Linked DNA regions of Homo sapiens. The main gene of each other region encodes a partner of the protein of the gene in region 2 in a complex. Each region holds a gene or a part of one and is shown on either strand. Other genes may lie near its edges. A codon is read from its position in the direction of its gene.

Evidence for each region.
Region 1: the proteins of ACTR3 (region 2) and ARPC3 are in contact, whole or in part, in a cryo-EM structure (PDB 6YW6), measured with the Homo sapiens proteins. Residues at the interface, in NP_005712.1 of Homo sapiens: Phe203, Gln206, Asp210, Arg211, Glu212, Leu238, Val239, Phe242, Asn243, Ile253, Asp270, Gly272, Tyr273, Glu286, Phe287, Pro290; in NP_001265485.1 of Homo sapiens: Tyr47 (codon at 6,988), Tyr48 (codon at 6,991), Lys50 (codon at 6,997), Ala51 (codon at 7,000), Phe54, Phe55, Lys56, Lys158, Trp159, Thr161, Cys162, Phe163, Val164, Lys165, Arg166.
Region 3: ACTR3 (region 2) and ARPC1B share a complex: the UniProt entries of both Homo sapiens proteins name them as parts of the arp2/3 complex.
Region 4: ACTR3 (region 2) and ARPC5 share a complex: the UniProt entries of both Homo sapiens proteins name them as parts of the arp2/3 complex.

Annotation. Positions count from the first base shown.
Region 1 is NC_000012.12:110,440,319-110,447,343, reverse strand, and holds part of ARPC3 (actin-related protein 2/3 complex subunit 3), read left to right. Parts: intron 1-1,792; coding exon 1,793-1,892; intron 1,893-6,955; coding exon 6,956-7,025. UniProt on the Homo sapiens protein: Component of the Arp2/3 complex, a multiprotein complex that mediates actin polymerization upon stimulation by nucleation-promoting factor (NPF).
Region 2 is NC_000002.12:113,885,663-113,893,101, forward strand, and holds the start of ACTR3 (actin-related protein 3), read left to right. Parts: upstream 1-4,426; 5' UTR 4,427-4,617; coding exon 4,618-4,661; intron 4,662-4,935; exon of another isoform or gene 4,936-5,116; intron 5,117-5,230; exon of another isoform or gene 5,231-5,330; intron 5,331-7,439. UniProt on the Homo sapiens protein: ATP-binding component of the Arp2/3 complex, a multiprotein complex that mediates actin polymerization upon stimulation by nucleation-promoting factor (NPF).
Region 3 is NC_000007.14:99,377,711-99,384,735, reverse strand, and holds part of ARPC1B (actin-related protein 2/3 complex subunit 1B), read right to left. Parts: intron 1-7,025. UniProt on the Homo sapiens protein: Component of the Arp2/3 complex, a multiprotein complex that mediates actin polymerization upon stimulation by nucleation-promoting factor (NPF).
Region 4 is NC_000001.11:183,625,760-183,632,784, forward strand, and holds part of ARPC5 (actin-related protein 2/3 complex subunit 5), read right to left. Parts: intron 4,879-7,025; coding exon 4,702-4,878; intron 1,836-4,701; coding exon 1,773-1,835; 3' UTR 1-1,772. UniProt on the Homo sapiens protein: Component of the Arp2/3 complex, a multiprotein complex that mediates actin polymerization upon stimulation by nucleation-promoting factor (NPF).

The DNA.
Region 1 (7,025 bases), on a different chromosome or scaffold from region 2:
TGACTTATAAAAAGCCAGACATCTTGTAAAAAGCAGAACTAAGAATCAGCATACAAAATGCTCTCATAAATGTGATTTTTTTTATCCCTTCCTTTAACACACACCTACCCACTGAAGGGAATATATATCTTCTCATTTTACAAATTTGGAAACAAGCTAAGAGAAGAAGAATGATGTCTTGGTCAAAAGCATAACGCCATGAAGTGGCAGAGCTGAAAAGATAGTGCTTGGGTCTTGGTTTAGCTGGGGGCTGGGTACCCTGATTTATATGATGTTTGTCTTTCTGTAGTGGAAATACTTTGGCCAGATACCAATGTGATGTCACCGAACATAGAATTGGAAGAGATGCACAGCAGCACCCCATTATTTAGTATTTCGTAATAATAACCTTAAGAACATAGACAATAGTAAAATGTAATTTTTAAAAATTAGGTTATTGCCGGGTGCAGTGGCTCACGCCTGTAATCCCAGCACTTTGGGAGGCCGGGGCGGGTGGATCATGGGGTCAGGAGTTCGAGACCAGCCTGACCAACATGGTGAAACCCTGTCTCTACTAAAAATACAAAAATTAGCTGGGCGTGGTGGCACGCACCTGTAATCCCAGCTACTTGGGAGGCTGGGGCAGGAGAATCGCTTGAACCCAGGAGGCGGAGGTTGCAGTGAGCAGAGATCGCGCCACCGCACTCCATCCTGGGCGACAGGGCAAGACTCCGTCTCAAAAAAAAAAAAAAATTAGGAAGTAGGCCAAGTGCAGTGCAGTGGCTCACATCTGTAATCCCAGCACTTTGGGAGGGCAAGGCGGGCAGATCACCTGAGGTCGGGAGTTCGAGACCAGCCTGGCGAAAATGGAGAAACATCGTCTCTACCAAAAATACAAAATTAGCTGGGCGTGGTGGCTTATCCCTATAATCCCAGCTACTCAGGAGGCTGAGGCAGGAGAATCACTTGAACCCGGGAGGCGGAGGTTGCAGTGGGCCAAGGTCATGTCATTGCACTCCAGCCTGGGCAACAAGAGCCAAACTCTGTCTCAAAAAAAAAAAAAAAAATTAGGAAGTAGCCAGGTGTGGTGGCTCACACCTGTAGTCCCAGCCCTTTGGGAGGCTGAGGCAGGAGGAACACTTGAGCTTAGGAGTTTGAGATCATCTTAGGCAACATGGTGAGACTCCTTCTCAAAAAAAAAAAAAGAAGTGATGAATACTTAAGCATCATTGTTTTTAACATTATTTACTTTTTTTTTTTTTTTGAGACAGTCTTGCTCTGTTGCCCAGGCTGGAGTGCAGTGGCACGATCTCGGCTCACTGCAGCCTTCGCCTCCTGGGTTCAAGTGATTCTCCAGCTTAGCCTCCCACATGGCTGGGACTACAGGCGCACGCCGCCACGCCTGGCTAATTTTTTATATTTTAGTAGAGATGGGGTTTCACTGTGTTGCCCAGGCTGGTTGCAAACTCCTGAGCTCAGGCAATCTGCCTGCCTCAGCCTCCCAAAGTGCTGGGATTACAGGCATGAGCCACCACGTCCAGCCAACATCATTTACTTAATTGTAAGTTTATATAATTTGATTTTTGAGAAGAGCTGTGTTTAACAACCAGCTTGAAAAATGCCTCAAAATTTAACAATTGGTTTTCTTGAGCCAGAAAGAACCAGCCCTCGCACCTCAATGCTGCTATCCCTTCTCCCTCCCCTAATTAATCTTGGGTGGTTTACTCTTTTTTTCCTTTAAGGGAAGGTTGTTTGCCACAGTGACATTTGCTCTTTTTCTGCTTCTGTGTTCTTCCTGGGCTTGCCATTACAGGCTTACCACTCTTCTCTCATGGATCCTGATACCAAACTCATCGGAAACATGGCACTGTTGCCTATCAGAAGTCAATTCAAAGGACCTGCCCCCAGAGAGAGTAAGTCTAAACCCATTATTTTCAAATTTTGGTACGAAATGCCTAACAATCTTCTGAAATGATCAAATCAGAAAAATTCTTAGCTCAGTCTTCTCTCTCAAATTGCCCTTGTACTTTGCTTGGTAGATACTGTGGTCTAGACCTTTCAAGATAGTGGTTATATGTTGCATTTAATAGGAAATTGTATTATTTCTTCTGACTTCTCCAGGAAACTCTTTTGAGAAAATGGAGGAAATGTGCTTAATTCTGGACACTGTTTATCAGTTCTTTCAAACAAATCTAATGCTGTTACGTCTAGAATGCCACATGCCCATCCTTTCTGTCATCAACCTGGAAAAGAACAACAACAAATATTTTAACCTCTTCCTCGTCTAAATCTACTTCCTTTATTCATTCTTCAAGATCTTCATTTTTAGCAATACCTCAATCTTAAATCTGAAGTGTACTATGTAACATTACTTACGTCTATTCCCGCTTTTCTGAATTTTATTTCAGAAAGCCGCAATATTTTTCAGACACTGTCTGAGACTCTTCTGATGCTTTCTGAGATGTTCTCCCAACAGTATAATTTGTATTATGTTAGACATGGTTTCCCTGTACCCTGCAAGGGTCTGAACTGAATTCCATTCATGGTTTCCAAGACCATTATTATAATTACCAATTTGGTACTTATCCAGTCCCCATTTCTCTGCCAGACTGTTTGACTTGACCTTTTTTAAACTTAATTTTGTTTTCAACACCATTTGAAAGCTCAGTAAACTTAATGCATATGGTGAGTCACCACAGTCTCTACTTGATTCTGAGGAAAAGGAACAAGGAAGAAGACAGCCTGGGAAAGAAGAAAAATAACATAAAAGAAAATCACAAGGCTGGGTGCGGTGGCTCACACTTGTAATCCCAGCACTTTGGAAGGCCAAGGCAAGTGGATCACTTAAGGTCAGGAGTTCGAGACCAGCCTGGCAAACATGGCGAAACCCCAACTCTACTAAAAATACAAAAATTAGCTAGGCATGGTGGTGGGCACCTGTGATCCCAGCTACTCAGGAGGCTGAGACAGGAGAATCGCTTGAACACAGAGGGTGGAGGTTGCAGTGAGCCAAGATTGCACCACTGCACTCCAGCCTGGGTGACAGAGTGAGACTTCATCTCAAAAAAAAAAAAAAATTTTTTTTCACTGCAAAGGCCAGGCGTGATGGCTCACACCTATAATCCCAGCACTTTGAGAGGTCGAGGTGGGTGGATCACCTGAGTTCAGGAGTTCAAGACCAGCGTAACCAACATGGAGAAACCCCATCTCAACTAAAAATACAAACAATCAGCCGGGCATGGTGGCGCATGCCTGTAATCCCAACTACTTGGGAGACTGAGGCAGGAGAATTGCTTGAACCTGGGAGGTGGAGGTTGCAGTGTGCCGAGATCATGTCATTGCACTCCAGCCTAGGCAACGAGCAAAACTCTGTTTCAAAAGAAAAAAAAAAAAAACCTGAATTGGAATGGAGGCCTGTGCTGTGAGCTAAATAACAGCATTAATCACACTAATTCATTTATATTCAACAAATATCTGTAGAATGCCTTTTATGTGCCAAGTATTCTTCTAATTTCAGAATCCTTTGGCCTTTGCCCCCTCCTGTCATTGCATTTAGAAGAACTAGCTGGTTTTTGGAAACAATATTGAGTCCTCCAAGACAGTTTTCTTTCACAGATAAGAAAACAGATTGCAGCCAGGCATAGTGGCTCACGCCTGTAATCCCAGCACTTTGGGAGGCTGAGGCGGGCAGATTGCCTCAGGTCAGGAGTTTGAGACCAGCCTGGCCAACATGGTGAAACTCTGTCTCTACCAAAAATACCAAAATTAGCTAGCTGTGGTGGCAGGCACCTGTAGTCCCAGCTACATGGGAGGCTGAGACAGGAGAATCACTTGAACTCAGGAGGCGGAGGTTGCACTGGGCCTAGATTGTGCCATGGCACTCCAGCCTGGGCGACAAAGTGAGACTTGATCTCGAAAAAATAAATAAATAAAAAATAGGGCGTGGCGCGGTGGCTCACGCCTGTAATCCCAGTACTTTAGCACTTTGGGAGGCCAAGACGGGTGGATCACGAGGTCAGGAGATCGAGACCATCCTGGCTAACACGGTGAAACCCCATCTCTACTAAAAATACAAAAAATTAGCCAAGCGTGGTGGCGGGCTCCTGTAGTCCCAGGTACTCGGGAGGCTGAGGCAGGAGAATGGCGTGAACCCAGGAGGCAGAGCTTGCAGTGAGCCAAGATTGCACCACTGCACTCCAGCCTGGGCAACAGAGCGAGACTCCATCTCAAAAAAAAAAAAAGTAAATTGCAAGGAACACAAGTCTAGAGTTAGAGTTCTGTTGAAATTCTTCCACAGGGCAATGAGCTGGGATGAAGACAACTGAATTGCAGAGTATGAAAGCTTCAAGATTACTTTGCATTTCTGCTGTGCGAGAACGTTAACAGTCATAGACAAGAAGTATAAGTAACTGTCTCAGCACTGCTGAAACCAACTGCCAGATATCAAGACCCTGGGATTTTGACCTTTTTAAAATAAGAAGAAGAAAAACAAAAAATTGCCAAACAAATTGTGTCATGAGATCTGTCTTTGTCAAGACAGTATTTCTGGCTTTTGTCCGTCTAGAGCTACCTACAACAGCTTGTACAAGTATATTTTAAGTCATAGTTTTCATAAAAAGAAAGATGTGTATCTGAACCTCAACATGTTCTAAATAATTGAGTTTTTTTCTGAAACTATAATATGTAAATTCAAATAAAATTATATTGAATACTTTTTATTTTATTTAATTATATATATTTTTTATTATTACTTTTTTGAGATGGAGTCTCGCTCTGTCACCCAGGCTTGAGTTTGGTGGAATGATCTCAGCTCACTGCAACCTCTGCCTCCTGGGTTCAAGCAATTCTCCTGCCTCAGCCCCCTGAGTAGCTGGGATTACAGGCACGTACCACCATGCCCGGCTAGTTTTTGTATTTTTAGTAGAGACAGGGTTTCTCCATGTTGGCCAGGCTGGTCTCGAACTCCTGACCTCAGGCAATCCATCCGCCTCAGCCTCCCAAAGTGCTGGGACTACAGGCGTGAGCCACTGCGCCCGACTGAATACTTTTTATTTTTAGGAAGCAGTTAAAGTTAGTCTATGTCTCAGTGTTTTTTTATAAATGCATTGAGAGACGTCTTGAATAATGTTCACCAAATGCTAATGGTAGTTATTTTTGGGGAAATGGGAATTAAGGTGACAATTAAAAATTTTTTTTTTGCCTGGTGCTGTGGCTTATGCCTGTAATCCTAGCTACTCAGGAGGCAGGAGGATCACTTGAGGCCAGGAGTTTGAGACCAGCCTAGGCAACATAGTGAGACTGCATCTCTAAAAAAAACTTTTTTTTTTTTTTTGGAGACAGAGTTTTGATCTCGTTGCCCAGGCTGGAGTGCAATGGTGCAATCTTGGCTCACTGCATCCTCCACCCGCGAGTTCAAGCGATTCTCCTGCCTTAGCCTCCCGAATAGCTGGGATTACAGGTGCCTGCCACCATGCTTGGCTAATTTTTTGTATTTTTAGTAGAGGCGCAGTTTCACCATGTTGGCCAGGCTGCTCTCAAACTCCTGACCTCAGGTGATCCACCCGTCTCGGCCTCCCAAAGTGTTGGGATTACAGGCGTGAGTCACTGTGCCCAGCCATCTTTAAAAACTTTTCTTTAAAAATTTTATTTAATTTTTAAAGAAAAAAATTAGCCAGGCCTCATGGTGCATGCCTGTAGTCCCGGCTACCTGGGAAGCTGAAGCAGGAGGATCACTTGCGCTCAGGAATTCAAGTCTGTGGTGAGTTATAATTGTACCACTGCACTCCAGCCCGGGTAACAGAGCAAGACCTCTCTCTAAAAAATAAAACTGTTTTGATTGAATTTCATTTTCTAATGAGCATGTATAAGTTTTACGAAAACAATAAAGCTGTAAAAATAAACCATGTACTACTTTTCTATAAATATTTTCTGAAAATCCGGGGGTGGTGGCTCACTCCTGTAATCCCAGCACTTTGGGAGGCTGAGGCAGGCAGATCACGAGGTCAGGAGTTCGAGACCAGCCTGACCAACAAGGTGAAACCCCATTTCTACTAAAAATACAAAAATTAGCCAGGCCTGGTGGTACATGCGTATAATCCCAGCTACTTGGGAGGCTGAGGCAGGAGAATCGCTTGAACCCGGGAGGCAGAGTGAGCCGAGATCATGCCATTTCACTCCAGTCTGGGCGACGGAGCAAGACTCCGTCTCAAAAAAAAAAAATTTGGCCGGGCACGGTGGCTTATGCCTGTGATCCCAGCACGTTGGGAGGCCGAGATGGGCGGATCACGAGGTCAGGAGATCAAGACCATCCTGGCTAACACGGTGAAACCCCGTCTTTACTAAAAATACAAAAAATATAGCTGAGCATGGTGGCAGGTGCCTATAGCCCCAGCTACTTGGGAGGCTGAGGCAGGAGAATGCCGTGAACCCGGGAGGCGGAGCTTGCAGTGAGCCAAGATCGCGCCACTGCACTCCAGCCTGGGCGACAGAGTGAAACTCTGTCTCAAAAAAAAAAACAAAGGCTGGGCACGGTGGCTCATGCCTGTAATCCCAGCACTTTGGGAGGCCGAGATGGGCGGATCACGCGGTCAGGAGATCAAGACCATCCTGGCTAACATGGTGAAACCCCATCTCTACTAAAAATACAAAAAATTAGCGGGGTGTGGTGGCAGGTGCCTGTAGCCCCAGCTACTCAGGAGGCTGAGGCAGGAGAATGGCGTGAACCCGGGAGGCAGAGCTTGCAGTGAGCCAAGATCACGCCACTGCACTCCAGCCTGGGTGACAGAGCGAGACTCTGTCTCAAAAAAAAAACAAATAAATATTTTCTAAAAACTTTGTATTTCAATAGGATCATTTTATTTTATTCAACTCCACAACTGTTGACAGTTGTATGTGTTTTCCCTTTATGGCTTTGATAGTTGTTATGTTTTGTATTTGGCTAATGTTCTCTGTGCTCCTTCCCTTGTGTCCTGCTTAGCAAAAGATACAGATATTGTGGATGAAGCCATCTATTACTTCAAGGCCAATGTCTTCTTCAAAAACTATGA
Region 2 (7,439 bases):
TTTTCACAGTCCCTCCCCTCTGACCACTAGGCTGCTTGGGGTACTTTTACAACTTACCTGCTCTGAATTAAGGCTCTCTGTGAATCTGATTCATCTGCCAATTTGCAAACAGTCAGCCCTGTAGTACGTACCTAAGTTGATTTTTAAAATACTATTTCTCATCTTAAAATAATGGAAATTGAGTGACATAAATTTCCTGGACACTTTTTAAGATCCAAAGACAATTTGCTAATTTGTCGTTACAATTAAAGAGCCCCCCAAAAGGCGTAAGAACTGGATTTTGACTTGGACTTCTGTTCCTTAGTTTCTTTAACATATTGGGGGCCGGGAGTGGTGGCTCACACCTGTAATCCCAGCACTTTGGGAGGCCGAGGCGGGCAGATCACGAGGTCAGGAGATTGAGACCATCCTGGCTAACACAGTGAAACCCCGTCTCTACAAAAAATACAAAAAAAAAAAAAAAAAATTAGCCGGGTATGGTGGCGGGCGCCTGTAGTCCCAGCTACTCAGGAGGCTGAGGTAGGAGAATGGCATGAACCCAGGAGGCAGAGCTTGCAGTGAGCCGAGATCGCACTACACTGCACTCCAGCCTGGGCGACAGAGCAAGATTCCATCTCAAAAAAAAAAAGAAAAAGATATTGGGAAAACTCACTTAAACTCTATGGGCTTCTGTACCACTAAGGCTTCTCAAATTTGATGCAAGTAATGGGAACTTGCTGTGGCTAACTTGAGCCACAGGAGAAGGATACTGCAAGACTCACAAATGCTTGAAAGTTTCGGAACAGGTTTGGAAATGGGTAAGAACCAAGGACCGGGTTGACCTGAACTGAAAGGAAATTGAGGTGCTATTAGGGACAAATATGAAATGAAGGATGAACTGTCTCTGACATCCTTTGCTTCTGTGTTTGGAGATGAGTAAGCAGGGAGTGGGTGCATATGCAAACAGGGTGGTCAGAAATGCTTTGGCCGGATGTGTGACTGAAGGCTATGTGCAGCTGAGGAAGGCTGGGCCACCACAGTAGCAGAGAGGCTGACCAATTTGGCATGCAGCAAGCAGGAAGTAGAAGGGATCTTAAGCAAGCAAAGTGTTTGGGTAGACAAGATTATGAGGAATGAGCACCAATGACATTTCCAACAAGCACTGAAAGCTTCCAAATGCTTCTAACAGTTACTGCCTGTACAAACACAGGACAGTCTTGACTATGTGAGACTGTGACAGTTTCCTCATGCCTATGAAATGAGAGACAGTACTTAGCACTGACATGAGCTTCATATTTGAAGGCAGCAAACTACTGAACCACATGTAGCTTCCGAAATCAAAAGATGCAAACTGGCAGACCACAGGTCAGATATGACATGCAGAAAAAAATTAGTTACTATCTTAGCCTAGTTTGTGCTGCTTACAGAATATCAGAGACTGGGTACTTTATAGAGAACACAAATTATTTTTCATAGTTTTAGAGGCTGGGAAGTCCAAGATCAAAGGGCCATCATCTCGTGAAGGCGTCCCTGCTGTGTCAAAACATGGTGGAAGGCATCACATGGGCAAAAGAGAGAGAGGGAAGCGGGGGCAAACTCCTTTTTATCAGGCACCCAGTCCTGTGATTCATTCATGAAGACAGTGTCCTCCTGGCCTAATCACCTCTTAAAGCTCCCACCTCTCAGCACTGTTGCACTGGAAATTATATTTCTCACACATGAACTTTGGGGAACACATTCAAACCATTACAGTTACCAAAGATAAAAATGCAGATTTCAGATTTCTCTTGGGGAAGAAAAAAGGCTCTGGCAATACCAGGGCTGTATTTCCACATGGCAACAGTTGTCTGTTGCCTTCTGTTGGGTTGTGGGCTCTCACATTGCCATACCCTCCTCATGGCCCCCTTCACTCATAACAGTACCTGCCTAGACCTCGAAGCACTAGTTTCCAACCCTGCTTGAGTTAACTACTTCCATGACAACTGTGCAAGGCCAGAGTGTGGGCAGCTACCTTGAGGGCCACCGGCATGGGCTGCCCAAGTGACCGAGGGCACTAACCTCTGCTCTCGAAACTTCTTTGGTAGGATCTCTTCACTCCTGACTTACTACTTGTAACTGCTGGAAACAACCATTTATTCTACCCCTACTAAACCACATCTGTCTTTTCTGTCAGAGCCAATCTTCAAGCATATGCTTCCTCAAAAGACTTTAATTACCAGGTAGTAGAAGCGGCAGCAAAGAGTCCCCATCTAGCATCTTCTAAAATGTAGTGGAGAAACCAACGACAACGAATCTGAGACAACCAGTTGTTTGACTTCTCTGAAAACAACCTCTAAAAAAAGCCTTCTCTCGTGAATAGCTGCAGACATGCTGGGCACTAATTGATGATGATGCCCTTTAGTGAGTCTCCTCTGCACATACCTGATTCCATTTGGATGCTGGCCCTCACATACTTCTATCTGCGAACTCCGGAACACAGAATATCATACAATGTATGATTCAATCTGGACTCTGCTGGAGCCATTCTCTACAAAGCAGACACAACTTTTTCTTGCCTAAATCCTTTCAAGTTGCTTTATTTTTATTTTTAAACTAATTACCATAAATCTAATTTATCAAGCTGCTTTTAAGATAAACTTTAAAATGCTTAGAGCAGTCTACAAATTCTTGCACTGTTTCACTCTTCCTTATCTCTCAGTCTTCATCTCCCATTGCATCTTCTCTGACTCTTTCATATGGATCTTCTTTCAATTTGTGGAAGAAGCCAAGCTTGTTCCTGCCTCAGGTCCTTGACACTTGCTGTTCACTCTCCTGGGAGACTCTTCCCCCCATCTTAGCTTTTAAATACCAGCTGGTCAGACTCCTTACCTGCCTTCCACCTTCCTCTCATTCTCCCACTCCTCGCCTTCATTTCTCAGAGTCCTCCGCTCTCTTCTTTCTATTGCTCTTAACACAATTTGTCTGTTTTCCGCTAATCTGTAAACTCTACAAGAGCACTTAACTATTTTGCATCCCACCGAATATTCGGAGTCAGCACAGACCCCGTCATAATAGAGTAGGTAAGCAATGCTTACCTGTCAAATGAATGAATGAAACACCCGATTCATCCCCCAAGCCAGCTTAATACATTAGATGATCTTATGGACTGAATAAGACATCCCTCCTTTTAAAGAATATTTTTGTTTTAGCTTCACATCAGCAAACCCCGAACGGTTCATCCTAAGATAAGCCTGGTAGAGAGGAAAGATACTAACCTTCTAGGGTCCTAAAGTGGAACTAGGAACTTATTAGATATGCACATTCTCAGGCATTATTTCCGATAGCCCAGTCAGAGAATTCTGGGGGTATGGCCCAGCAATCTGTTTTAACAAACCTTTCAGGTAATTCTGATACACACTAAAGTTTGAAAGGTTTCTTTAAGGCTTTCCAGTTTTCTTTTCTTTTTTGGAGGGATGGGGGGGGGTCTCCCCATGTTGCCCAGGCTGGTCTCGAACTCCTAGCCTCAAGCTATCCTATCCTCCCACCTCGGCCTTCCAAAGCATTGAAATTACAGGCATGACCCACTGCGGCTCGCCTCCGTTTCTAACTTAAAAAAATTTTCTTTGGAGGGGAGCCTTAATCCTTTCTATTATCCTGCTAGTAGAATCTTACTACTCCTGAGGGTAATCTTTGTCATAATCCAAAAGCCTTGAATAAAGGCCTATTTGTATAGTTATGCAGAATATATTCCTGGGAGGTTTGCCTTCCTAGGAGCACAGGTCGGCCCTGGGAGGTGGGGGTTGGGGGGCAGGGCTGCATTCTAAAGTCCTGTAACAACGCACAAGTACAACTGAATAGAACTCGGAACAAAGGCATCAGGGCCACGGTGCAAGTCTTTGTTCATCCGTTCCCCGACTGCTCACCCTGTCTGATACCGCTCTTTTCCACCCAGAAAAGCAGCCACTCAAGTTTTAAGAATGGATGTATGCCGCGGACGTTTTCGATTAGGCCGTTTTCTCTCAGGCACTGGAGGATATTCGTGGCTGCAGGAGGCGCTTCCACCCTTTCCTCAACCTAGCAAAGAAGTAACTGAAACTAACCCAAGGGTTACAACCGAAAAGCCCCTTCCAGCTTCAGAAGCAGAACTGGAAGCTCGGATAGACTTCTCCGCCTCTACACTCCTGGAAAACCCGCAGTGGATTTCACCAACTTCAGGATCGGAGCCCAGGCAGGCGAACGTACCTTATTGCGCATGCTCGCTAGCCCCTCCCGCTCGGAGCGGAAGGGGGAGCGCTGGGGGCCTGGGCCTGGCCTGGCCGGGGCGTCGGCACCGGCGGCCATCTTGGCTTCCCGGGGAAAGGCGGCGTGAGGGGAAGAAGTTGTAGGGTGGGGGCAGGAGTGAGGAGGAGGGAAGAGAGAGGGGGAGGAGGCCGCGGCGGGGCAGGGCGGGGACTGCCTGCCTGCCTGGGTTGCGGAAGTGATAGCCGCCGACCGAGCCTGCTGCTTTCTTGCTACTGCTTCGGCTTCCCGGCTACCCCCCGGACGGTGAAGGCGGCCCAGCTGTGGATGGTCAGATAGCCCTTGTCTCCCGCCGCCAATCTCTGGCCCCTAGCAGCACGGAGCAGACGGCGGCAGCAGCAGCAGCAGGCGAGGAGGAAGATGGCGGGACGGCTGCCGGCCTGTGTGGTGGACTGTGGCACGGGGTAAGGGGGCTTACGGGCGGGGGTGGGGAAACTGAGGCGGAGGAAGGAAGATGGCGGGGGAGGGAGGAGGCCGGGAAATGAATGGTGCGGCGAGGTGCCGCCGCCGGCTGTCAGTCCTAGACCCGCCGGCCAGCGAGGGGTGGGGCCCGCAGCCAGGGCCTCGCGGGTCCCCTCGTTTCTCCCTCCTGGGACTGGGGCGGGGGCGCGGGCCCGAGATTCAACCCCCAACCCTCCCAGCGGCTTTCTCCGCGCGACCCCTCCCGGCCCTTCCCCCACTACGGTGGGCAGCGCCGCCCAAAGGGCGCTGGGGACGGTCGTCTTGGGGGTGGTCCCCGGGCCCGACCCATCCGGCTTTCCTTTCCCTCCGCGCCCGTTTTTGCCAGTCGGTTTGGGGACCCAGGGGCCGAGCTCGGGGACTGGCCTGGCAGGGGAGCTAGAAAAGAGAAGCGCTCCTGGTAGGTTTGACAAGATCGCTGTGACAACATTCTGCCCAGGGTGTGGGTGGGGAAAGGGAAGAATCGGACTCTGAAAATGGGAACCTACAGTGGGGCTTTCATTTGACCACCCACCTTCTCCTTTCGACTCCTGGTCATTTCCATCTCCCTCTGCGTTTTAACCGGTGAACCAAGTCACATTTTAATTCGAGGGAGAAAGATGTCATGTGTTACTTCTGTAGCCTCAAAAAAGTCCCCCAGTGAGCAAGCGCGCTGCAACTTCCTTAGTTTTGTCAAAGCCGCTTCCTGCTTTCAGTCTTTTATACCCTTATAAGGTAGTTTTTAGTTTCCAACCTGAGCACATCTTACTAGAACTTTTAAGCAGGTTTTAAAGAGACTGAATTACCGGTGCTTGGTGTCCATTTATATGACTTAAAAAAATGTACTTATGTTTCATGGAGTGGGGGAAAGGAAGCACCCTGGAAAATAAACTAATTTAAGTTGTATTCGTTCATTCTGTGATGGTATCTTGAAGGAAGCAGGAAGGTATAGAGGTATATAGGAGGGTGTTTAAGTTGCAAATAGTTACTCGTAGATATGTAGGGTAGTTTGCGAAAATGTAGAGTGGCTTTAAAGTGTGGTCGTTCATTTTGTATTAATAGACGTTTTAGAGAGTTGTACCACACTCATAACTGCATAGAGAATAGACTACCCTTATTTTTATGTAGAATCACTGCTTCAGGATGACATATAGGAAAGTGGTTTTTTTTTCTGTGCTGATGACATCTCTCCAATTCCCAGAACACTCCCAGTTTTTTTTTTTTGAGGGGGAAGTCAGTAAGAGGTGGACTGTCAGGCTTTTTTTTTTATTATTAATTATAATTATTGATTTCATTATTGTTACTTAAAAGATTGTGTGTCCTTCACTCTTTATGTGAAATTTCTTTAATCTTCATTCTCATAACTAGCTAGTGTGGCAGTTTCTAAAATCCCAGTTAGGTAGAGAGAAACCACCAACTTCTTAATATTCTCCTAGGAAAACACTAGCCTTGGAACTTCTATGTATTTTTTTGATGAACACTTTATTTAAAAGTTTTTCCTTAATTCAGTCTCATTTCTCTGAACCAATAATTTTTTTTATTTCTCCCTTCTTAGTCTAATTGGTGAGTATTTTTATGTCTAGGTTCAGTTTTAAAATTAGATTTGGCCTGAGTCAGTAGGATAGGACTTTTCAAATGTGTTTTGTTAAAGTGACGAATATTGCTACATAATTAATGCTTTAGAAATTACTGCGTTTTCAAAAAAATAGTGTAAATAATTGTGGCCCTGAGAAATAATATGGTAACATCTCAAGTAGTATGTTACTTTTCTAATCTCCATTTTCCCCCTTTTGAAATAGTTTCGAATTAGTATACAAGATGTTTCATTGAGATAAACTGTCCTTAAGTGACCTCCTTTCCTAAAGGGCAACCTTGAATTTAAAACATGCTGAATGACCAGTAGGATCGGGAAGAGGGGTTCAATTTAACCTAGGCTATTTCTGTTTTAAAATTACGATTATCACAATAGTGTATTTTTAAGTTATTACATTGGTTTCTCCAATAAGGAGAGGTTATTAACTGCACATTGATGATTTGAATGGAACTGATTAGGAGTCCCCTTGCCACCTCACTCTCTTTTACCATTTGTCACAATCTGAAATTCCCCCTTTAGAGTTTCAGTTATTTTGGTTCTCAAAAGCCTTTTTGGTCTTACAAGTTTCCAGTGGTGCCTCCTGGGAAGTTACACCTTCAGCTTTATTTGCACATGGAGGATAAGTCCTTGAGGTTGAGGACCCTGAGATAAACATCTCTAAGTATGGCCTTAACAGGGAGCTTTTACATTTCAAAATTCTGTGGTCCCCGAATGCAAATTGTGCACCTGTAATTTGTCTAATTTTTTTTATGCTTTAGAGAATGCATTCAGCTCTGAGGTCTCTAAATTACAATTACTCACTTAGTTTAAGTAAAAAGTTATAACCTGAATCAGGTTGCTCATTTCATTCATTATATAAATTAGGGGAAAGGTGGCTGAAAAAAAGTGGCCATCTGTAAAACTTGATCGTCTTAGATAGGAAAGCTGTTAAGAGTTAGGAAACTTGAAACTTAAGCCCAAAACTTTTAGGGATCGTCCAGCAAAACTCAACATATGAATCACCTAGATTCAGGTCATAAAAGAGAATACTTATTTTGAAAAGAATTTGAAAAGAAATGCTTCATTCACATTGATACCCTTATCTACACACTTTTTTGGTCTGTATTGGAAAGCATTGTAAAATACAGTTGGGGCACATAGATTCCCATTG
Region 3 (7,025 bases), on a different chromosome or scaffold from region 2:
CAGGGGCTCATGGCTGAGGCAAAGGCAGATATTTAACAGATACATCCCATTCTCCATCCAGACATCCACTGGCTGCACCCAGGGCTGGGAGGAGGCACAGGGCTAGGCGAGGCCTGGGTGATGGCTCTTGGGGAGGCCCCAGGGTGACCCAGCCTTGGGGAACTGAAGGAGGGAGATTTTTGTTTCTTGAGACAGGGTCTCTCTCTGTGGCCCAGGATGGAGTGCAGTGGTGTGATCATGGCTCACTGCAGCCATGAACTCCTGGGATTACAAGCATGTGCCACTGTGCCCAACTAATTTTTGATTTGTTTGTAGAGAGGGGGGTCTCACAATGCTGTCCAGGCTGGTCTCAAGCTCCTAGGCTCAAGAGATCTTCCCTCCTCACCTGCCAAGTATTTGGGATTACAGGTGTGAGCCACTACACTCGGCCAGAACGAGGGAGATGTTTGACTGCAGCCCTCTAGACTAGCCCCAGCACTGAAGGGGAACCCTGGCAGAGGGCAGCGACTCATCCTCCCGTCAGCCCAGCTCAGCCCCTGCCAGCCTGTCCCTAGCCTCCTCCACCTGCCGCTGAGTGTCAAAGGAGCCCACCAGGCCTGACGGGGGTGAGATCACGGTCTCAGCCCAATTCCTCAAACACATCTCTCCCCGCCTCCGTGACTCAGTTTCCCAGCATCACAGGGACCTGGAAGTGGAGGAGCCCAGTGGCACTGCTTGCCCAGCCACATGCCCCGGGACACATCACCTGCCTTCTTTTAACCTCAGTTTTCTCATCTGTAAAATGGGAACAGGAATCCTGCCTCCCAGCAGAGATGCTGAGAGCTGGAAGCAGATGACACACCGCACCTGGCCTCTATGAGGAGGAACCACGAGGCGGTTACTCTTAGCCTGTGATGGATGTGATATACCAGCCCTTTGAGGAGCAGGCCTCCCCAGCCAACCAGAGGCCAATCCTGGGGCACACAGGCATGCACCTGCCTCGGGCTTCCGTGCTGGCTGTTCCCTAGGCCTGTGACACTCTTCCCCCAGATACCGGCACACACGGCTCTCGCTCTGGTGCTGCCACTCAAGTCTGTACTCAAATGTCAACTTTTGGGGAGGCCTTCCCTGGAAACTGCAGCACCTTCCACGGTCCGGCACTTCGTAATTCCCTATTTCCGATTAAATTTTCTCAGCAGTCACCATCAGACATGCACTCACTGATCTGGCCCGCTGCCTTCCTCCCCTGCTGGAATAGAACCAGCTTGGCAGAGACACATTTTTGTTCTATCTTGTTCTCGTTTCTATTTCCACTGCTTAAATGCTTAGCACATAGTAGGTGCTCAAGAAATATCCGCTGAACAAATTTTTCATTGCCATTAGTGACCAACAGAGTACGTTCTCAGAAACGTGTGTGTGTGTGTATATTTGAGAAAGGGTCTCGCTCTGTTGCCCAGGCTGGAGTGCAGTGGTGTGATCACAGCTCACTGCAGCCTCGACTTCCCAGGCTCAAGTGATCCTCCTGCCTCTGCTTCCCAAGTAGCTGGGACTACAGGCTCACGCCACCCTACCCAGCCCTCAAAAATATTATCATTACATAGGTTAGGAATGAGGCCAGGCACGGTGGCTCATGCCTGTAATCCCAGCACTTTGGGAGGCCGAGGCGGGCGGATCACCTGAGGTCAGGAGTTCAAGACCAGCCTGGCCAACATGGTGAAAGACTGTCTCTACTAAAAATACAAAAATTAGCTGGGCGTGGTGGCGCACACCTGTAGTCCCAGCTACTTGGGAGGCTGAAGCAGGAGAATCTGTTGAACCTGAGAGGCAGAGGTCGCAGTGAGCCAAAATCACACCACTGCACTCCAGCCTGGGCAACAGAGCAAGACTCTGTCTCAAAAAAAAAAAAAAAAAAAAGGTTAGGAATGAATGTGTGTGAAAAAATAACTTAAAAATAATAAATAAATAAATAATTTTATTAAATAGGGCCAGGCGCAGTGGCTCATGCCTGTAACCCCAGTACTTTGGGAGGCCTAGGCAGGAGGATTGCTTCAGGCCAGAAGTTCAAGACAAGCATGGGCGATACAGTGAGACCCTATCTCTACAAAAAATTTAAATAAAAAAATTTGCAGGTGTGGTGGTGCACATCTGTATTCTTAGGTATTCAGGAAGCTGAGGCAGGAGGATTGCTTAGCCTAGGAGTTTGAGGCTGCAGTGAGCTATGATTGTACCACTGTGTGACAGAGCCAGACCCTGTCTCTAAAATAAAATGTATTAACTAGTACCATCCAGCACTTTCTGGATACTCCCTCCTTGCCAGCTCTAGAAAAAAAAGTATCCTTTTTTTTTTTTTTTTTCGAGATGAAGTCTCACTCTGTTGCCCAGCCTGGAGTGCAATGTCGCAGTCTTGGCTCACTCCAACCTCCGCCTCCTGAGTAGCTGGGATTACAGGTGCGCACCACCATGCCTAATTTTTATATTTTTAGTAGAGACAGGGTTTCACCATGTTGGCCAGGCTGGTCTTGAACTCCTGACCTCAAGTGATCCGCCCGCCTCGGCCTCCTAAAGTGCTGGAATTACAGGCATGAGCCACCGCGCCTGGCCAGGTGCTCTGTATACATTCTTGACTTCAACACTCCCACCAGCCCTGGACTTTCAGGGAGGCCTGGCTGCACTTGGGGAGGGATGCCAGGCTCCAGGTCAGCTCCAGATGACAGATGTGGGGGCTGAGGCCACCTGCCCAGAGTCACCAGTGACAGCCATTAGATAATGTGGCTGCCTCCCTCACCAGACTGGCAGTTTTGTGTTGGGTCTCAGGGCCTGGGCTGGGAGCCAACCAGGACTGGGAACCCTGAATGCCCCAGGAGGCCGGTGGCTGCCCCGTCACTGCCCTGCCCAGGGGCCGGCCCATCCTGCACTGCATCTGGGCCCAGGCACAAGGGAAAGGCAGAACGACCTTTGCCTGGGGCTGCAGTTTGGCCCCACAGGGCTCAGTGACCAGCCTGCCCGAGGTCACAACACAAAGCCCCCTGCGCTCACTGCCTGGAAGGCCCTGTCCACCTCCTGCTCACTCCAGATCCAAACCGCTTGCTTTCACTTGTATCAGGATGTCCTGGAAGATTCCTGGAGCAGCACAGGACACACACACATGCACATGTGTACATGCACGGGGCAGGGACCTCATGTTTCCTCCATGCTTAGAACAGGACCCCGGTGGGTCCCCAGTCAGCATTTGCTGAGCAAGTAGACACACGCAGCGCAGGGTCAGGCCACGCACACAAACACATGCGTGTTCAGCCTCACACACACAAGCACACTTTGCATGTTAAGCCTTGCACACACACATGCACACTGCACCTCCCCACACTTTAAGCACATGTTTAGCCTTGCACACATGACCATACTCCCCACATGCACGTGTTGAGCCTCACACACAGGCACACTGCAGGCCTGCACACATGTATGTTCAGCCTTGCACACACGCAAGCGCACTGTGTCCACAAGCACACTTTGCACGTGTGGGCAGCCTTACCCAGAACAAGCACCCGGCACCCACTGGGGCTGCCTCTGCAGCCTCTCTCTCCTTATAAGGCCTCTTTGTGTAAGGTGAGGGCCCCGGAAGCACCATCTCAGCGCCCTCAGCCATGTCAGCAGGTCTGATGGGGGTTTCCCTGAGCGTTTCCTGTGTTCCCAGGCTGGGACATCACCACCCACATCTGATGCCAGCACTGTGCAGAGAGAAGCTCAAGGCCTGTGACTGATTCACGGTGCTCATCTACACCCCGACAACCCCCATGGTCCAAGGTCACCAGCAGGGCAGGGGCAGGGTGAAGGCCAGAAGCCCACTTTCACACTCCACCCAGGCTCTGGTTGGCCCCAGGACTCCAGCTGAGGCCAATTTTTCCCTCCCTTTCAGCCCCAGGAGGCCCAGACTGAAGGAACCTCCGGGGATGAGGGTGGGAGAGCCCAGACTCAGAACCCTGGGTTGATGCACAGACTCTGACATCCCAGCATCAGTGGTCACATTCTTGCTGTGTGCCCAGCCACATCTCTGCCCTGGCTGTCAAGACGGAGTGGCTGGCTCTGCTGAAGACAGCAACCCCCACGTGTGCCAGTGGGCAAGGGCAACCGAGAGGACTTGAAGAGCCCTGACCACTGTTTCTAGGACCTAGACATACTCAAGGGGCAGAGGAGGGGCTGGAAAAGATGGCCACAGTGGTACACTAGTGACTGGCAGAGGAGGGAGGTTGAGACCACACCTATCAGCCAATCACACTTCAGCATGAATTAGCAGAAATACTTCCTAGTCTGTTGAACAAACCCCTTAAATGGGGCAAAGAAGTGTTAAGGGGGCGAGAGACAGGAAGACTCATTTCCCTTTTTCCATAACTTCTGCAAAGCAGCTGAAACCCAAAGCGCCTCTGCGATAACTCCCCAACCCCCACATCTTACCAGTGAGGAAGTGGGAGAGCAAAAAGGGAGTGGCTTCTCTCAGCCAATGCTGCCACAGGGCTCCAGTCTCCTGCCTCAGGGATTCTAGCCGGGGACACTCCAACTTCATCATCCTCAGGAAAACCTCTCACCTACCAAGCCTGCGTGAGCCAGCGTGTGCTCACCCCCGCCTGCCAATTACCCTGCTCTGGATGTCTCAGGAGAAAAATACGAGGGCTGCTTCACCCACCAGTGTTGACAGCATAAGGTCTCAGTGATGGCTCCTGGGGGAGGGATCCAGGACACCAACCCACTATCACTGTGGCCCTGTGAGCCAGCACTGTGGGCCTGTTTGATGTTAAGAAACCAGAGAGAGGAGGGGATAGCCGGGCACAGTGGCTCACGCCTGTAATCCCAGCACTTTCGGAGGCCGAGGTGGGTGGATCACTTGAGGTCAGGAGTTTGAGACCATCCTGGCCAACATGGCAAAACCCCGTCTCCACTTGGAAAAAAAAAAAAAAAATTAGCCAGGCATGGTGGTGCCAGGCAAAGAAAGCCTCAGGCTGCCCAGCGGCGGGGTGGTGGTGGTGAGGCACTCTAAAGTCCTGGGCCTTGATACTCTCTCCCTTACTGTGCTGGGTTTACATTCTAGCTGTCTTCATACTGGCTGGGTGCCCTCAGCCAATATTTCCCTCCCATCTTAATCCAGATGAGGCTGGGGCTAGACTAGGCACAGGCTGCGGGACCCTTCTTGCCTGGCTTCCTTAGGTTTCCCTGAATCCAGAGGTTTGGCTGTATCAGAGGCTAAACCAAGGAGGAGTTGCCTGGAGGAAAGATCTCAGCATTACAGGCGCTCTGGGAAGTCCCCACCCAGCTCAGGCAGTTCTTGGATAGAGCAGCCAGCAGGCTAATTTGCACCGTGCTAAGCGGTTACTCAACTTCCTATGCTGGGTCAGAGCCCTTCCTACCCCTATCCTTCCCTCTCCAGCTCTGCTCTTGAAGTCTTACCAACCACGCAGAGTGAAGTCAAGAAACACACATGAAAACAATCGTAAGGTACCATTAAAGCACCGGTTAGTCATCCAAACAAAACAAAAACACACAAAATTCAATGCTAGCAGAGCTGTGGAGAAATTGTCATTTGTTGCTAATTGGTTTAATTCTTCTGAAGGGCACTCAATTCAACAAGTGGGTGGGACCAAATATTAATAGAACAGAATAACACTAACAGGAACTTGAAAATTAGCATTCTGGCCAGGTGTGGTGGCTCACGCCTATACTCCCAGCACTTTGGGAGGCCGAGGTGGGTGGATCACGAGGTCAGGAGATCGAGACCATCCTGGCTAAAACGGTGAAACCCCGTCTCTACTAAAAATACAAAAAATTAAGCCGGGCGTGGTGGCGGGCGCCTGTAGTCCCAGCTACTCGGGAGGCTGAGGCAAGAGAATGGCGTGAACCCGGAAGGCGGAGCTTGCAGTGAGCCGAGATTGCGCCACTGCACTCCAGCCTGGAGGACAGAGCAAGACTCCATCTCAAAAAAAAAAAAAAAAAAAAGAAAAAGAAAATTAACATTCTTTGGTCACATACACCCATTTGGTCCTAAGAAAACAGCAACACATTTTTCTTTCTTTTTCTTTTTTATTTTTGAGATGTAGTCTCATTCTGTCGCCCAGGCTGGAGTGTAGTGGTGCATTCTCGGCTCACTGCAACCTCCGCCTCCCAGGTTCAAGCAATTCTCCTGTCTCAGCCTCCCCAGTAGGTGGAACTACAGGTGCCCACCACCACGCCCAGCTAATTTTTGTTTTTGTTTTTAGTAGAGATGGGGTTTCACCATGTTGGACAGGCTGGTCTCGAACTCCTGACCTTGTGATCCACCCGCCTCGGCCTCCCAAAGTGCTGGGATTACAGGTGTGAGCCACCACGCCTGGCCCCATTTTTCTTTTTTAAAAGCAAACAGGTGGGGTGCCATGGCTCACGCCTGTAATCCCACCATTTTGGGAGGCCAAGCCAGGTGGATCACTTGAGTCCAGGAGTTCGGAGACCAGCCTGGGCAACATGGCAAAACCCTGTGTCTATAAAAACTACCAAAAAAAAAAAAAAAATTAGCGGGATGTGATGCTGTACGCCTGTAGTCCTGGCTATCTGAGGGGCTGAGGCTGGAGGATTCCTTGAGCTGGGAAGGTGGAGGTTGCAGTGAGCCGAGATCTCGTCACTGTACTCCAGCCTGGGTGACAGAGTGAAACCTCATCTAAAAAATAAAGCAAACATGTTTATAATAGCTGTCTTTATAATGGTGACAGTGTGGAAAAACCCAGGTGACAATATGGAAAGAGTAAATTATGACATTAACATGTTGAGATGCTACGTAATTATTAATATTAGAAAAGACCTATCAACCGACGGGTGCGGTGGCTCACACCTGTAATCCCAGACTTTGGGAGGCGGAGGCAGGTGGATCACCTGAGGTCAGGAGTTTGAGACCAGCCTGCCCAACATGGTAAAACCCTCTCTACTAAAAATACAAAATTTATCTGGGCTTGGTGGTGGGCACTTGTAATCCCAGCTGCTCGGGGGGTCGAGGCAAGAGAATCACTTGAACTCGAGAGGAAGAGGTTGCA
Region 4 (7,025 bases), on a different chromosome or scaffold from region 2:
CCATAGGACCCTGAATTGCCTGGAAGTGTTTTAAAGTGGGAATCTAGTCAGGTGAAGATCGAAAGCAAACAGAAGTCGCTGTGAGTAGGTAAGTACAAGAAATAGATTTGAGGTGAAAGAAAGAGAATTTTGGAGGCTGGGAGTGAATGACTGCAGCTGCTAAGCTACTTTGCACTTTCTAGTCTAGGTCTTTGGGCAGTGATACTACATATAGGTATTCAGCTGCCATCCAGAAGGCTATGGAATCACTCCAAAGGCTTCAGTAGTGCTCTGACATCATTCATGACTCTCTTCTCTATCATCTTATATCTATATAGTCTTATAAAAACCCTACCAAACTGTTCTTGTTAAGAGTACAGTACTTGGTGGTAGAAGCAGAAAACCTTTCCTCTTAATTAACCATACATTCATAATTGTTAAAGTCAGAGAAAAATAAATTATTCAACACTGACATTTTATTTTCTGAAGTTTTATCATTTTTACAAAACAAAACAAAATGAAACAAAAAGCAGGTATCAAAAACAGCAAAGAGTTTATAGAATTTCTGCACCAGTTTGCACATAAGTCAGTGATTACAAAACTGGCATCCAATGTAAATACTAAGCACAAGCTCACTTCCCTCTTGGTCAGGTGGTTTGTTTTAGAGCTACTCGATATTTATAACTTTTTATAAGCACCGGTCATTTTTTGAGAACTGATTTGGTTTGTCCAACAAAGTAAACAATTTTTTGCTGTGTGGCAGTTTCTTTTTTTAGAAAACACTGAGCTAAAACACAGAATGTGTATTTGTTTGGATCTGAACCAAATCTTTTGAGATCCCAACTACCCTGAAGAACACTGAAGACATTTACGGGGCATATTAAATGGTATCTTAAATACTAGTTGTATACCTCATAATGTCTAAGGCAGCTATTATATTTCTAAAGAAAGTAGCATTTCATTCAGAGGCTGCCCAGAGTTTAAATTACACCATAGTTTTTCTTTCTTTCTGCAAATCATTCTTTCTGATTTGCAGTTTTTTCCAAACAGAGCCATATTAGTGGAACAAAAGTTTGATGTTCATGCCCAACAAGCTCTGATATTTTATGGATACATTTGTATAAAGCAAGACTTCTTGCTCTGAACCCTGGGTGACCACAAATAAATTGAGGGGCCATGATTATTGGATGCTGAGAGAAAGTAGCATACTTAAACCCACAGTACAGATAATCAGGAGGCAAGCAAAAACAAAGCTATAACTTAGCAGTGGTATTCACCCACCACTTATTCCAAAAACATATTTTGCTTATTAAATAAGGGAAATATGGTCCAGTTTTGCAATGTTAATAGCTGCCAGTCTCTCATATTTTTTATAAATATCATTTCCTGACTAGCAATGAGCTAGGAAACTGGCCTCAAATTCTGACCAAATCTCTCAGTATTAGTTAAAAATAATACAAAACAAAACAGAACAAAAAACCAGCCAACAGGGGTTAAAAGTTGCACAATTAAACTTGAATGTAAATTATACTATATACAGATTGGTATAAACATCACTGAAATGGTTTTGAAAGGATGAAACACTTCTATTTTAACACAATTTCTTCTATATTATCCCAATTTTCATTAAAGGACAACTGATATGTAATTTTTTTCTTTACAGATATGAAAAAGCAAGAAGGCAAAGCTGAGAGAAACAGATGCTACCCACAGGGCAGCGGTGGCATTTGGTTGTTTTGGTCTTTGTACCAGCAATTCCCACTCCCGAGGCAGATAATCCACTTCCTGCCAGACTACACAGTTTTTCTTGCAGTCAAGACACGAACAATGGACCCTACTCCTCCAGCAGCAAGTGCCTAAAAACAAACCAAGATGTAAATGTTGACAGAATAATAAAAGGTCAATTCTCATATTTGGTAAAACATTTTTCTTAAAGAAGGAATGGGCACTGCTATAGACCCTGAATTTATTAGTTAACAAATAATAAATTCTTGAGCACCAATTATGCACCAGGTACTGTTCTTGGCACTGAGGTTACAGTAATAAACAAAACCTTGAAAGTCCCTGCCCTCATGAAGTTACATTCTAGTGAGATACTAGTTTACATTTTAGTACATTAATTCTAAATAATGTTTTAAAAAATCTGCAGCATAGGCCGGGCGCGGTGGCTCACGCCTGTAATCCCAGCACTTTGGGAGGCCGAGGCCGGCGGATCACGAGGTCAGGAGATCAAGACCATCCTGGCTAACATGGTGAAACCCCGTCTCTACTAAAAATACAAAAAATTAGCCGGGCGTGGTGGCGGGTGCCTGTAGTCCCAGCTACTCGGGAGGCTGAGGCAGGACAATGGTGTGAACCCAGGAGGCGGAGCTTGCAGTGAGCCGAGATTGCGCCACTGCACTCCAGCCTGGGCGACAGAGCAAGACTCCGTCTCAAAAAAAAAAAAAAAAAAAAAAAAAAAAAATCTGCAGCATAGTGTTCCTGCTCAAAACAGGTGGACATTCTGCATTTCTCATTCTCACCACATAGTCAGAAGAAAATTCAAACTGGGATCAACCATCCCAACTTCCACTTCGATTAGTCAGCCTTTGTCAGATTTTTTTTCTCCCAAAGAAAGAAGGTATTGTTTAATAGCTAAGAACTTAGAAACTTTAACTCTGACTCTAATTTGAAAAATAGAGAGTAATGATCAAGTATTAGGAATCTGAGCTCTGGTTTCTTTCTGTTCAAAAAATATTTATGGAATACCTTTGTATACTGAGTACTGTGCTAGATGCTGGGGATACAAAAGTGAACAAATACAGCATTTTCTGGTCTAGCATGAGGAGACAGACATATAAACAGGTAATTTTAATCTAATGTATGAAATGAGAGTTGTGCTGCAGGTGCTATTAAAGCACCAGGGAGAGGCTTATACCCAGATTAACAGTATAGAGGAATGTTTCAGCTAAGGCTTCATGGAGGAAATGACACATTAAAAGAATGAGTAGGTGACAGGCTAACACCAGAAAATCATGAGCAAATGTATGGAGGTGTGAAACAATATGGTGCATTCAGGAAAAAGGCTGGCATTGCTATAGCCTGAGGGGAAGAATGACATGGAAGATGAAGCTAGACTTGGGAACTTTGACTTTATCCTGCAGGTGACTGACAAGGGCAATTTTGATTTTAAAGATATCATTTTGATGGCTGGGTGGAGAACAGATTTGAAGGAGGCAAAACTGTTAACTGGGAAACCAGTCAGGAAGCTATGGCAACAGACTGGGAGAGATGCTGTGAACAGCTGCATTAGATACGCTTGAACAGATAGATTTCAGAAATACTTCGAAGATTGGTAAAAACTGGTGACTGACATTTGGAAGAAATGAAGACTTCACACATGCCTCAGTTTCCTCAGTGACAAAAGAGGAATAATAGCAAGCATTTCCCTCCATTTTTATGAGGATTAAATGAGTTAATATTTATAAAGTCCTTTGAAGAATATGTGGAATATAATAAGTAATCAATGTTCACTGCAATCTTGAGGCTATGCTAGAACTACGCTGCTTGGGTTTTAAAGCTAGCTTTTCATCTGTAAATTGAGGATGATAAAGATATTTATATACTTCACAGGGTTGTTGTAAAGGTTAAATAAAACATTAATAGTATGGTACCTGGCAACAGAAAGTGTTCCATGAATAGGGTGCCATATAAATTACTACCCAAATTGGTGCATTTTAGAGTAAAAGGGGGAACTATTGTTTTACTATGTGCTTTTTTCTTATGTTTGTGTTTTCACTCAGATACACTTCAAACACTCAATATTTTTATGACTGGTTCTATTTACATGTTATCCAGTTTTTTACCCAAAGCTCAAAATCACTTATACTCTTTTGACAGATGATGTACCAGCATCTACTTACATTGCAAAATATACACATGAAAATAGAAAAACATGATTTAAGAATTCTTGATCCTCCAAACTCCTAATTCTTTAAAAAAGTTGTAAAATATCTAACACAAAATTTGCCATTTTAACCATCTTTAAGTGTAAAATCCATTGGCATTAATTATATTCACAATGTACTGTAGCCATCACCACTATCTGTTTCCAAAACTTTTTTACCACTCCAAGGAGGAACTCTGTACCTATTAAGCACTAACTCCCTATTCCTTGCTTTCCCTACTTCCTAGTAACCTCTAAGGACTTTCTGTCCCTTTGTGTTTGCCTATCCTAGATTATTTCATATAAGTAAAATTATAAAATATTAGTTCTTTTGTGTTTGGCTCATTTCACTTGGTATGTTTTCAAGGTTTATTAATGTTATAGCATGTGTCAGAATGTCATTCCTTTTAATGGTTGAATCATATTCCATTGTATGTATGTACCACAATTTAGCTGTTCATCTGTTATGATCCTTGTGTTGTTTTCACCTTTTGGTCACTGTGAAAGAATTCTTGATTTGTATTGCTTATTTTCTTTTACAAAGTTTTGATTTAATTCAGAGTTCAAGATTATGTTTAATTACTAATAATCATTGTTGAATAAACACAAGTGTTGGAATCAGAATCTCTTAAGACCAAGGCTAGTAAACATAAATATGAACTATCCTTTTCATGCATTTTATTTGTAATAACAAAAATGTACAACAAATCAAAATGGTTATTTAGGTGAGAGAGGTTGTCATTGTCATTCCCTATTGTAAAAGAACCAGTCATATAGATTTATAATTCATAACTTACCTTTTCATGCCATTGCAGTAACATAGCACTGCTATTGTCAGACGGGCTCTCAAATCCTTTATAAATATACTTCATTAGGAGATCCACACCATTCTTGTCCAGAGATTGAACTGCCTTTTCTATATCATTAGCTTTAAAAGAGATGAGCACCTTCAAGACAATGCTGCCTGCCCGGTCCTGGTGGGTCAATAAATAACAGAACATTTAGACATATCTGTATGAGGAGGGTTTAGAATTTCAGAAAGTCTACACTATGAATGTGACATTTGAGTAAGGACCTGAAGGACGTGAAAGAAGGCTTGGGATAACTGAGGAAAGTGTTTCAGACAGAGGAAAGAACAGTGCTATTAGTGTGTGTTCAGTGTGTTCCAGGAACAGAAAAAAACCCAATGTGGTTGGAGTGGATTGGTGGGAGAAAAGCACGTGAGTAAGTCAGAGGTTATGGGAGGACAGATCGTGTAAGGCCTACAGGCATTGTAAGGAGTTTGGCTTTTACTGAGAGAAATGAGAAGACATTGGAAGGTTTTAAGAGCAGTGCCATAATCTGACTCACATTTTAACAGGATTGCTTTGGCATCTATGTTACAGAAAATAAGCTGTGGGAGTAGGGGATAAGGTAGAAGCAGGGAGAGCAATTAGGAGGCAATTGCAATAATACAGGCTGGATGTGGTAAGCATAGTAGCAGTGGAGGTGGTAAGAAACTAGACAGACTATTAACATAATTGAAGGCAGAGCTGAGAGGATTTGCTAACAGATCAATGTGATAATTTAACAATTTATTAAAACAACATTTAAATTTATGTCTTGATCTTAAAAAAAAAAAATCCCAACAAAACGGCCGGGTGTGGTGGCCCACAGCTGTAATCCCAGCACTTTGGGAGGCCGAGATGGGCAGATCACCTGAGGTCAGGAGTTCGAGACCAGCCTGGCCAAAATGGTAAAACCCTGTCTCTACTAAAAATACAGAAATTATCCAGGCATGGTGGTGTGTGCCTGTGATCCCAGCTACTCGGGAGGCTGAAGCAGGAGGATTGCTTAAACCCGGGAGGCGGAGGGTGCAGTGAGTTGAGATTGCACCACTGCACTCCAACCTGGGTGATAGAGTGAGACTCCGTCTCAAAAAAAAAAAAAAAAAAAAAAAATTCCCAACAAAACAAGGAGGCAGATTTGCAGTTTCACCTTGAATTATCCTTCAGAAGTAATTTTTTCTTAAAAACTTTTTTATTTAAAAATTTTAATAAACCAAGCTGTCTTAAAAGAAAATTGACTGTAATTTATATGAATTGACTGTAGATATGAAATATAGTGATGTTCATTAATAATGATCTTTTTTCTTTGGCAAAAGCCTGCTTCAAAAGCAGTTATTTTCTTACCCATCCGGCCAAGCAAAGGAAACACTTAACTGACCTTTTCAACAATTCGTTTCTCCTTCCATTCAACACAAAGTGATACCTCCAGCATTCCTACTGGTCAGGATTTCACAGAATGTTTCTACCACCTACTGTTATCTTTGGTTTAAAGACTGCAATTACCAGATTTAGAAAAATATCTTTGCATCCACGGTAAAAATGAAATTTCAACGACAATCTTTACAACTTGTAAAAACCAAAGAAATTTTCCCCAATAAAAAATTATGTTACCTAGATAATTATTATGCATTTACCTAAGTTATTACTTACTACTATTCAATTGAGATTCTTGAAGCTCCTAGGATGTATGAATAGCTATGGACAACGGGGTTGATGCTATGGGCATCATTTTAAATAAATACGTAAATAGGTTAAGAATTAGTAAAAGACTGCAGAGAATGTAAGTTGCACAACTGTTCTGAAGGGCAATTTGGCAATACTGCATACCAAAAGCCTTAAAAAAAAGTGCATTCTTTGATCCAGTAATTCACTGCTAGCAATTTACTCAAAGAGAACAATTAAAAATTTACCAAAAAATATTGATTTCAGTGGTTTACAATAGGAAAAAAAAAGTCAGTCTAAATATATAACAAAAGATTAGTTATGTATACACTGCAGCTTATCCATATACAAGTGTTAAAAATGCTATAAACTTATTGCGAAGGAAAGCTCATGTACATTGCATATAGCTGAAAAAGCACGTTATAAAATTTCATTCTTAAAAAAACAAAAGGGAACTCTGTAACAATACAGCAAGGCCCCAAAGTAGTAACTGTTATCTCTGGGTGCTGGGACCACAAACCACTATCTTTTTAACCTTCTCATATGTCTGAGCTTTCTATAATAAGTATTTAGTATTTGTATGGTTTTAAAAAATCTTTAAAAAGCAATTACAATCTGTTTATTTTTGTAAA